Linked DNA regions of Homo sapiens. The protein of the gene in region 1 interacts with the protein of each later gene in a biochemical or structural test. Each region holds a gene or a part of one and is shown on either strand. Other genes may lie near its edges.

Region 1 (4,350 bases):
CTTCAGTTTGTGGGATTGCACTTGGAATCTTTTGAGGGTGGGGCCTCAGATGTGCCTGGTCACGTCTCCTGATGCTGGGTTGGCTGTGCTGCAGAATCACTGCTGCATGGACAAGCTTTCTTTAAAGAACTAAACGTCAGAAATGGGGAGCAATCAATCAGCAAATAGATGGTATAATTTGGTTCCCCATAACCAATAACAGAGCTTCTCTGAAGGGCAAAAATGCTTTTCTTTCCTTTTCAGCACATGTGACTGCAGCTTGCATTCTGTTAAAGGTTAGGGCCCCATTCACACTCCAGAAGCTCCTCTGGGTCATACAGCCTTTGGATACAGACTTTGACCAAAGTGACACAGTCCTCCCCTCCACAGCTCTCCCCTCCTCAGTCCCTCTTCAGAACCACTGCAATTCTTGGGGGGGGTAGAATGGGGCTGTTGGCTTCATTAAATTACGTATATTTATTCACCCAAATCCAGTCTGGGAAGGTTCTTTCTGAAAGAAAGACAAACATTCTCTAGCCCTTGAGGTTGGCCTTGGAGTGTTAAATATGAGACACAAAATACCAGATTTAATGAGTCAAAGAAATACTGACACACCAAACTAGTAAAATCCATTGTAGTTGCATCTGGATTGAAGAGCTTTAATCAAAAAGTGTATTGCACCACAGATGAATTTGCTACAGCAGTTTTCAAGAATACAATCCCTATTTACAACATGGAAGGAGAGCTCAAGATCCATCGCTCGTATAAAGGGCTATAGATACCGTCGCTAACACAGAAAGTTTTATACAAGTCAAAGTGCATTAAATCACTTAGAATATTTATTCCACTCTTCCTCTTAAAGCTGAAGGAAATTCAACATGCAGGAGGAAAGCCTAGTCAGTGAAGCCTCCCTAAAGTGAGTACAGACCTAGGAACGGGCCCCACAGCTACACCTGAAACTGCCGAGGAGTGGGGCCTGGGGTGCGTGTGGGACCAGTTCAATGGCTGGAGAAGCCACGGAGGCAGCGGATGGGCTTCTGTGGAAATGTAGCTGCCTTTGGCTGGCTGTGAGCTACCCAGTCTTAGAGATTCTTTCCTGGAACAGTTGAAAAAGGAAATCCTACTTTGAAAAAAGGCTACCTCTTACCCATCAAACTTGCAGAACAGAAGAGACTCCTGTTTCGTGTTCCCACCAGGTAAATGGAAATTCGTGTTCTAAACAAGGGATAACTGTCTGCAAGGAGGAGCCAGAGGAGGAGGTTAGTCACTGGAGAAGCGGCCTCTGGAAGGCAGAGAGCCTGAGCTGGGACTAAGGAGATGCTGCCCTGACTTGGTTCTTCATGGAAATTTCGTTAGGTTAACGTTGCAAATGCGTGTTTTTCTGTGACACATTTTATATACCTATTTTGGCCCTAAGCATGATTGAGAAATACAACTTTCCATCACTGGATAATGGATAATAAATTTAGAGGCTCCAGTTATTAATTTAGTTTTTTATTTAACCAGTGAAACTTTCATCAAACAATAAACGGTTTCCTTTTAGATTCAATATTGTGGCTTTTCCAGAACCAGCATGTTCCCTTTCCTCAGTAAACGAGGAATCCATAAAACAAGTTTTTGTTGGTTACTACCAGAGTCATGTGCATGCTACAAGTGCTGCAGCCAGCTGGGCGCCGTCTGGGTGTAGTGTCATTTTAAGTATTTGGGGTGGGATGAGGGAGAGAGAGCAGCTCCACAGACAAGGCAGACTGCCCCAGTGTCTCCATCGAGGCTGGGGGACAGCTGCTGCCCCCACTGGAGACAGCGGACTGTCCTTCAGTAGAAGACAGGTGGTCTGCATCGCCCAGCGGCAGCGCAGCACAGAATCAAGACAAAGCACACGAGATCCCACTGCACTTCAGAGGGAGCAGTGCCAGAGTGCGAGTGAGAAGACAAAGGAACAGGAATCCTAGTTTTAGGAAGAATTTCCTCTGGACGCTCTGATTTTAAGAACACCAGTTAAATGGATTTTATAGTACAGAAGACATGTTTATAGTAGTGAAGAACTTCAGCTATAAAAAATAGTTTAAAATGGTTTACCAGCAACCTATCCAAGACAAGTACATTCATTAAAAAGGCAATTGAGTGTATTTGGTACTAAGGGTCTTTTCATATATTTGCTAGTTTTCTTAAGTAAAGTGGAGATACTGTCAGAAAGGTGCATTTTCTCATTCATCCACACCGACCCTTAAAGATGGATCCTCTAAAGTTCTAGGTGGTTTGAGAGACAGGGTGAAAGAATATTTTCTTGAGAGGAAGGGATAAAAAGCTTCTAACTCATCTGAATTTTTAAAAGCCACTCCCATAGAGTTCCCATGGAGTTGGCTGTTCCTGGCAGAGGCAGGTGGGTTTGGCCTGCTGGGCACCATCTCAAAGGGCCGTCTCTACCTCCAGTAGCAGCGCTACATGGTGACTCAGGTGTGCCTGCCAGATGCTGATGGCTTCAGCTGTAAGTGCTACCGTGAAGTTAGAGGATTCAGGTGCAGATGGGGTGCTGGCTGGAGCTGGGATATTAGCAGCACTGTGGAAATCTGGGTAGTGCCAGGACCCTCCTGTTTGGTGACCAGAATGACAGGATCAGCTACCCCCTGAGGTTCAGGTCAGCCTGCAGGGAAGTGGGCCTTAGTCTTGTAAACAATGTTTAGACACTTGTACAAAATACTGCAGTTACAGTGATTAAAAACCCACCCAGACTGGTGTGTCAGTGTTCTTTTCACAGAAAAAGTGTCAACCCACGGAGCTCCATCCTTGGGTAGTCCCCTCTAGGACCATGGTATCCGAGGGTTTGAGATAGACGGCCGGATGCTGCCCTTGGGAGCTGGTTTGGACCCAAACCATGACATCTGCATTTGAAACAGAAAAGGCTTCTGAGATGCAAATCAGGACTTGGTGCCAGGGAAACTGAACCGCCCCTCCCCTCCCGTGAGCCTGTCACTCCTGCCCCCCACACATCCTGCCTCTGGCTCTGAGCAGAGCAAGAAGATGGTGCCAGTAACCAGTCTGCAGGCCCGTGCTCAGTACAGGAGGGAAATGAGAGAAAAACACTGAGTTGACAGGAACAAGGTAGTGGAACTGCAGGTATTTTTTCCTATTAGAGCATTTATGCAGACGCTTTTGGAATTTGAGTGCCGAGCCAGACCTGGGGCTCTCGATAAAGCGCTATCAATGAAAATGCTTTGAAAAATACGTGGCCTGTTGGTCAAGTACAGCACAGACATTTGGGCACAAAGGATGTCATCGCTAAAAAGTGCTTGGATCAAGTTCATCCAAAAGCAGCCAAGCTGATCATGCAGCTGTGCTGGTGCCTACACTCGGGTGTGGGTCTAAGGGGTCTTACACTGCTACTGCTGGGATAACTGACAACGTATCTTGGAAGCTGGAACAGTAGACCAGAGAACCCTACCTTATATTCCAGAGTTTCCTTGAGCATGTTCTCCTCCTCTTGGGAAAAGTTCAGCAACACTGACACAGCTTTTATAAGATGAAAAGCCTGAAACACAGTAAGTTTTGCTGCCATAGGCCTTGGTGAAGGTGAGGCGGGGTGGGGTCGGGGGAGCTACGTGGCATTTCCTGCTTGCTTTGGTTAGCAGGACCAGGTGGTGGGTGACGCTCTGGCACTCTGAAGTTTGGCAGCAATGATAGGTTCTTTCTTCCCCTGCATCCTCGGGGGCCTGGCAGGCTTAAGGGAACTGCCCCAGCAGCTACCCTACCCTTTGGCAGGACCCAGGAGCGATGGGTGGATTCCGTTCCCGGCTTCCGGCCTCTGGCCTCAGCACCCAGGCCAGGATTTAGAAGTGGAGCCTATGTCTCCCACCAGGAGCCAGTTCCTGCACGGCCTCTCCCGCCAGCCGCTCACTCCGCAGGCCAACGCCAGCAGGAGAAATGACTGGGTGACCACAAGGGCGTCAAACCAGGATGTACGAGGAAAAGAGAGAAAGGGGCTGGGCAGGGGTCCCTGCAGGACAGACTGTAGGGCGGGGCCTCAATACCCAAAAGACACCTCAAAAGCCCTTTACCTCGGATTCGCGACAAGACATGAATTTTAAAACCACATGTTTAAGGTACTCAAAGTTGATCTCGCGGGCATCTGTCAGGTCAGTGTTATTCGTGACGGAAGGCGCCATGTTTGCCATCTCAGGTCCAGGTTTCTCCCGGACTTCGAAGAGCTCATTATCGGGTCTGATTTTCTGAAAAACCAGTGGGAAAGATGCTACACCGAACCCTCTGAGACAGGTGGAAAAAATCACACGGGAGGTTCACCTGGTCCAAACTATGATCACTATCGTAGGGCAAAAAGGGCCCCACCTGGGAAGGAAGCACCTCCAGGTAGGC
Region 2 (7,041 bases), on another chromosome or scaffold:
CAAAAATATTCTCCAACAGTCTTACTGACTATATGAGAATACTGTTGTTATTTATACTTTTTTCATTTGTTGCCTTGAATTTACTTAGAGAAGAGTAGTACATTTAAATTAAAGAGTTCATACAGTTTGCTCAAGATTTTTTAAATTATGCCTCTAATGTTAGTCTGTCACTCAGGGTATTTCTATATTGTTACTGTTTAAATTTATGGACTAAAACGAAAGAGGCTAGCCTCTAAGAAAGAAGAGCGTTTTGAACCCTGTAATGTCTGTTATTCCTTTTTGCTACCTTCAGTAAATTTTAGTGCCCTTAGTTTTTGCTTCTCAAAATCACCCATCTCTGTCTGGGCATCTCCTGCAGTGCACAGAGCAGCACAGTGGATAGTTTGGAGTTTCAGTGAGTGCTGCTTTACACCACACTCTTTGTTGAGACAGTGTCTTGCTTTTTTGCCCAGGCTGGAGTGCAGTGGCACATTCATAGCTCACTGCAGCGTCTACCTCTACCTCTACCTCCTGGGCTCAAGCGATCTTCCCACCTCAGCCTCCCAAAGTGTTGGGATTACAGGCATGAGCCACTGCACCCAGTCTACACCATTCTCTTGTCTTGCACATATAAACGATGTTTTTTACTGTTGGTGAACATTGTGATTACACTCCTACCTAATTCTAAGGGAGACATCATGAACTTGCATTTTAGTTTTTTGCTCAAATTTGTCATAGTATTGTTATTTTTTAATTGTAATAGACATACTTGCCAAATACTCAAAGGTATCACTTACCACTGCAGACTTAAATATAAAACAAAAGCTAATTGTCCAGTTATACCTGGAAGTTATTTTTTATTTATTTATTTTTTTGAGACAGAGTCTCACTCTATTGCCCAGGCTGAAGTGCAGTGGCAAGATCTCGGCTCACTGCAACCTGTGCCTCCCAGGTTCAAGCGATTCTCATGCATCAGCCTCCAGAGTGGCTGGGATTACAGGCATGTGCCACCACACCCGGCTAATTTTTGTATTTTTAGAAGAGATGGGGTTTCACAGTGTTGGCTAGGCTGGTCTCGAACTCCTGACCTCAGGTGATCCACCCGCCTTGGCCTCCCAAAGTGCTGGGATTACAGGTGTGAGCCACCGCACCCAGCCATGGAAGTTATTTTTTACCTATTTTTCACCTAAGAAGGATGGCAGAGAAAAGGGATGGGACACCTGCCCTTTGACCACCCAGCCATGACCTTATTACAAGTGAGTTCTGGAGGATGTCTGCAGATGGGCTGTGAGATTGAAAGCTGCAGCCATGGCTGTGTCCATGCTGTAGTTTAGAACTGAAGTTTAGCTTTTTTTCTTTTGGTCTGTTTATTTGCTGCCAGCCAAAATTCTGCTTTTTATAGTACATCCACAACTGTACTTTCTAAATACAGCTTTCGAACACTTTTAACTACTCTATTATGAGGGGAGTTTAATATAATAGGATTTCCATTGAGCTAAAAATTATGTTTTCCTTTTTATTTCTTTTTTAAATTCTTTTTTTAATTTATTTGAGCTAAAATTATATACTTTATTTGCAGAACTGCTGGCTTTTAAAAAATATCCTGAAGATGGTATTGATCTTGCTAATTGATGTTTTGTGCACACACCTGCACATGTGTGGGGGAGCAGAGCATACTATTTCGTCTTAAATGGTATAAAATCTCAACCAATAATGTGATTCAACAATTACCATTTCTTTTTAACTCGAATCCTAAGACAAATTATATATATATATATTTTAAACTCTAATAACAGTTACCATTAATTGCTGTAACTCAATTAGATAGGATATTTTGAAGGTGGAATGTATTAGTCTACACATACCACTGATTTGATTTCTCTTCCAGCCATTGGATTTAATGTAGAGACGGTGACGTACAAAAACCTTAAATTCCAAGTCTGGGATTTAGGAGGACAGACAAGTATCAGGTATGGTACAAAGACCAGGTTATTTGGTAGTATTTGACATTTATTGATTCTTTTAAGGGTTAAAATCAGTAAACCCGAATATGTGTTCTATTGTAATTTAAATGGAGCCACCTAGTTTAAAATGAGGTAAAATTGGGAACTATTTCCTTAGAGCATCCATTGAGTTAAAACTTAAGGAAGCCCAGTTTTCCAGATACCTGTTTAATGAAAATCTTTTCACGAAAATCTCAAGACCTTATTACTTCAGCTATTCTCAATTAGAAAGGACCCTCCATTTAGTTCTTGTCAGTCTCTCCTCTCTGAAACACATTGTTTTGGAATTCATTAAAGTACCTTGCAGGCATACCATTTAGGGCTAATATAAAAATAAATGCCATTGGCCGGGCATGGTAGCTCACGCCTGTAATCCCAGCACTTTGGGAGGCCGAGGTGGGCGGATCATCAGGTCAGGAGTTGGAGACCAGCCTGACCAACATGGTGAAACCTCGTCTCTACTAAAAATACAAAAATTAGCTGGGCATGGTGGTGCGTGCCTATAATTCCAGCTACCTGGGAGGCTGAGGCAGGAGAATTGCTTGTACCAGGACTTGGGAGCTGGAGGTTGCAGTGAGCTGAGATCGCGCAACTGCACTCCAGCCTGGGCTACAGAGCAAGACTCTGTCTCAAAAAAAATAAATGAATAAATAAAAAATAAATGCCTTCTGAAGTTCAGGTCTTCTGCTTAGCATTTTGGGCTTGACATGGCAACAGTGAATGTTTGATGACCGTCAGTAGTTGGTCACGATAGTACCATCTTAAAAGATTAGTAATGCATTCTCCAAACATTCTGACTTCTTTTAACTCATTTCTTGAATCACGTTTCTTTTTTTTTAAATTGTGCAGCCTCCCAAGCCAGAGTAGGCTCAGAGAGACTCCATTGAATCACTTTTGAGTTTATTTATAATTTTAGCCATTTCTACTGCTTGATGTCAGTGATTAATTTCATGACTGTTAAATAAAATCACGTTTAAAAAGTTTATTCCTCTTAAGGGGTGCCTAGTTAAAGATTTGTTTAAGAAGATGTAATGATCAGGTCTGTGTACAACTTTTCTATCAGTATATTTAGTGATTTCATAGATTATAAATAAATTTTGTCAGCCTGAAGTCTGAATGAATTCATTTGGAAACTCCCTGGTCCTGTGAGTCAATGTTTATCAACATTCTTTTTTTTTTTTTTTTTTTTTTTTTTGAGACAGAGTTTCACTCTTGTTGCCCAGGCTGGAGTGCAATGGCACCATCTCAGCTCACTGGAACCTCTGCCTTCCTGGTTGAAGTGATTTTCCTGCCTCAGCCTCCCGAGTAGCTGGGATTACAGGCACCTGCCACCATGTCCAGCTAATTTTGTATTTTTAGTAGAGATGGGGTTTCTCCATGTTGGTCAGGCTGGTCTCGAACTCCCGACCTCAGTTGATCTGCCCTCCTCAGCCTCCTAAAATGCTGGGATTACAGATGTGAGCCACCGTGCCCAGCCAATGTTTATCAACATTCTTTTGACTCCATCACATCTGAGGGATATGGTACATATATCCACCAGAAACAGTGAATCATTAAGGCATTGATTCTAACATGTGTGGGACAGAATTGGCAATTGATATGTCAGTTTCTTCCTTAAAACAATAACAATATGTTCTCCCCTTTTAAATTTTCTCTAGGCCATACTGGAGATGTTACTATTCAAACACAGATGCAGTCATTTATGTAGTAGACAGTTGTGACCGAGACCGAATTGGCATTTCCAAATCAGAGTTAGTTGCCATGTTGGAGGTAAGAAAACGTAACCACTTTAAAATGTGGGGCAGTCATTTACATATTATTACATTGAAGAATAATTAAAAAGAATGCAGGGGTTGTTCCCTCCATCCTTTTAAAATTATTTTCTTTTATGGAAATGATTTTCTATTCCAAAAATACAGTTGAGGAGGGTTGGAGACAAAACAACAACAAAAATTAACCTCGTAACTTCCTCTTCAAGCCAGATTGCTTGATTTTCCAGGAGGTTCAGAAGAGCTCACTTAAACAAAAGCATCTATTCTAAGTCACTTCTTTGATGTGACTTTTAAAATATGTCTTTTTATTTTTAGCTGTTTTAGAAGGATTCAAGTTCAGAGAAATATGTATTTCTGGGTTACTGGCACAATGCTGGCCTCACGTTTATCGTTTTTTATCCTTCCCAGTGTTTACAGTGCTTTTGACCTTCTTTCTGTTCTTTGGACACGAGCTTGCACACCTGGCTCAGGGCCTTTTGCACTTGCTGATCCGTCTGCTTGGAATACTATTCTCCAGCATCTTTGCATGGCTGCCTTCCTGACGTGTTTCTTCCCACATCTCTTCCCCAGAAAGAAGTCTTATTTATTCTCTAATCCTTTACCCTTCTTTATTCTTTATACCGATATTGTTTCTTTTTTTTCTTTTTCTTTTTCTTTTTTTTTTCTTTTTTTTTGTAGAGACGGGGTCTACCTATGGTGCCCAGGCTGGTCCCAAACTCCTGTCCTCAAGTGATCCTCCTGCCTCGGCCTCCTAGTGTTGGGATTACAGGTGTGAGCCATTGCACCCCACTTACTGTTTTTTTACATTATTTTTAAATGTATTTGTTGGCTGGGCGTGGTGGCTCACGCCTGTAATCCCAGCACTTTGGGAGGCCGAGGCGGGCAGGTCACCAGAGATCATCAGGAGTTTGAGACCAGCCTGTCCAACATGGTGAAACCTCATCTCTACTGAAAATACAAGAAAATTAACCGGGCATGGTGGTGTGTGCCTGTAGTCCCAGCTACTTGGGAGGCTAAGGCAGGAGAGTCACTTGAACCCAGGAGGCAGAGGTTGCAGTGAGCCGAGATCGTGCCCCTGCACTACAGCCTGGGTGACAAGAGTGAGACTCTGTCTCAAAAAATAAAAATTAAAAAAAAATATATTTGTTTACTTATGTATCTCTCCCTCTAAAATGTAAGTTCTTTGAGTTTACCCTGATAGGAGGAACAATGTATAGTACTTAATTAAGAATTCAATACATCTTATTCACTGAAGTTAATAAGATCATATATTGGCTAACTGATCAAATTCAGAGGATGCATTAAATAATCCATTTTTAAAAAATGAAAAAATAATCAAATGTACTATGATAATAATAAAATTGCCCTTGCTCTGGAAAATTAGATGGATAAGTTTCTTTCTCTTGTCAAAAACTGGATTCTGAATTGTTTAATCAAGGGATGTTTAAATATAAGTTCTAGGCCAGTTGATACCTAGGTAAAAGCATCCTCAGACGAGGGGACTATGTACTTTTGAATTCTTTTTTTTTTTTTTTTTTTTTTTTTTTTTTAGACAGAGTCTTGCTCTGTCGCCCAGGCTGGAGTGAGTGGCGTGATCTCCACTCACTACAATTTTCGCCTCCTGGGTTCAAGCGATTCTTCTGTTTCAGCCTTCTGAGTAGCTGGGACTATAGGCTTCTGCCACCACACCCGGCTTATTTTTGTATTTGTAGCAGAGATGGGGTTTCACCATGTTGGCCAGGCTGGTCTCGAACTCCTGACCTCAGCAGTTTGCCCGCCTCCTGATCTGCCAGCCTTGGCCTCCCAAAGTACTGGGATTACAGGCATGAGCCACCGCGCTCAGCCCAGGACTTTTGATTTCTTGAACTACTGACTTAATGGCTTCCAAGTTATAAATTGCAGACTTAATAGTTTTAAACATTTGGTTAATTTTTTTTTTTTTACATCATAGCATTATATTTATTATAAGAGCTTCTTAGACCAAATTTAAATGTAAGGATAAGGTTTAATTGCCTTGGGTATAATAGGTTTTTTAAAGAACAGTTTTATTTAGGTATAATTCACATGATATAGTGTATTTTTATCATATAAAGTATTGCTTAAAAGGAATGGATTATTGACTTCAGTTTACAATTTTTGAGTTGTGCAGGATTGTTGTTACTTGCAGTGTTAGGATTTGACTTATAAAGTCTTACAGAGAAAGAAGTAAAAGTTGGATTCTTTCTTTAGGAAGTCACTTTTAATTCATCAATAAATATCATGTTATGTTAAGTATGGGCCAAGTACGAGTCAGGACTGTTAATGTTAAAACATATAGACACAGGCCAGGTGTGGTGGCTCACGCCTGTAATCCCAGCACTTTGGGAGGCCGAGGCAGGTGGATCACTTCAGGTCAGGAGTTTGAGACCAGCCTGGCCACCCATATCTACTAAAAATACAAAAATGAGCCGGGTGTAGTAGCGCACGCCTGTAATCCCAGCTACACGGGAGGCTGAGGCAGGAGAGTCACTTGAACCCAGGAGGCGGAGGTTGCAGTGAGCTGAGATAGTGCCACTGCACTCCAACCTGAGTGATGGAGTGAGACTCCATCTCAAAACAAACAAACAAAAAATATATAGTATAGACACAAAAGCAGTTTAGGTTTCAACTTTTTTTTTTTTTTTGAGACGGAGTTTCACTATTGTTGCCCAGGCTGGAGTGCAGTGGTGCAATCTCGGCTCACTGCAGCCTCCACCTGCCAGGTTCAAGCAATTCTCCTGCCTCAGCCTCCTGAGTAGCTGGGATTGCAAGCGCACACCACCACACCCGGCTAATTTTTGTAATTTTAGTAGAGACGGGGTTTCACCATGTTGGTCAGGCTGGTCTTGAACTCCTGACCTGGTGATCCACCCACCTCAGCCTCCCAAAGTGCTGGGATTACAGATGTGAGCCACCGTGCCTGGCCTTTCAACTTTCCTATACACAAAAATGAATTCTAAATGGGTAAATAATTAAATGTAAAAAATGAAAATTATAAGAACATATAAGGAATTCAAAAGATGAGATTTAATTATATTAATGTAAACAAAACTCCCCCAAAGCTCAGATATGGCAAATATAAACAAGATTAAGATAAGAAACCAGGCCTAACCAGAAGCCAATGACTAAGGATTAGTGATCTGAATCATAGCAAGATCTTTTGCAAAATGAGCAAAAGGCAATTCGTAGGGGAAAAACATTGCTAATAACATTTGCATTTGTTTTTAAAGAGACAGGGTCAGCAGGGCGCGGTGGCTTATGCCTGTAAT

The links. Proteins that work in one complex are often made in the same cells at the same time.
Region 2: the proteins of GOLGA1 (region 1) and ARL1 form a complex in vitro, tested with the Homo sapiens proteins (one study listed by BioGRID).

Annotation. Positions count from the first base shown.
Region 1 is NC_000009.12:124,877,750-124,882,099, forward strand, and holds the end of GOLGA1 (golgin subfamily A member 1), read right to left. Parts: intron 4,206-4,350; coding exon 4,035-4,205; intron 3,509-4,034; coding exon 3,422-3,508; intron 2,862-3,421; coding exon 2,781-2,861; 3' UTR 526-2,780; downstream 1-525. UniProt on the Homo sapiens protein: Involved in vesicular trafficking at the Golgi apparatus level. Involved in endosome-to-Golgi trafficking. Mechanistically, captures transport vesicles arriving from endosomes via the protein TBC1D23.
Region 2 is NC_000012.12:101,397,773-101,404,813, reverse strand, and holds part of ARL1 (ADP-ribosylation factor-like protein 1), read left to right. Parts: intron 1-1,867; coding exon 1,868-1,949; intron 1,950-3,640; coding exon 3,641-3,752; intron 3,753-7,041. UniProt on the Homo sapiens protein: GTP-binding protein that recruits several effectors, such as golgins, arfaptins and Arf-GEFs to the trans-Golgi network, and modulates their functions at the Golgi complex.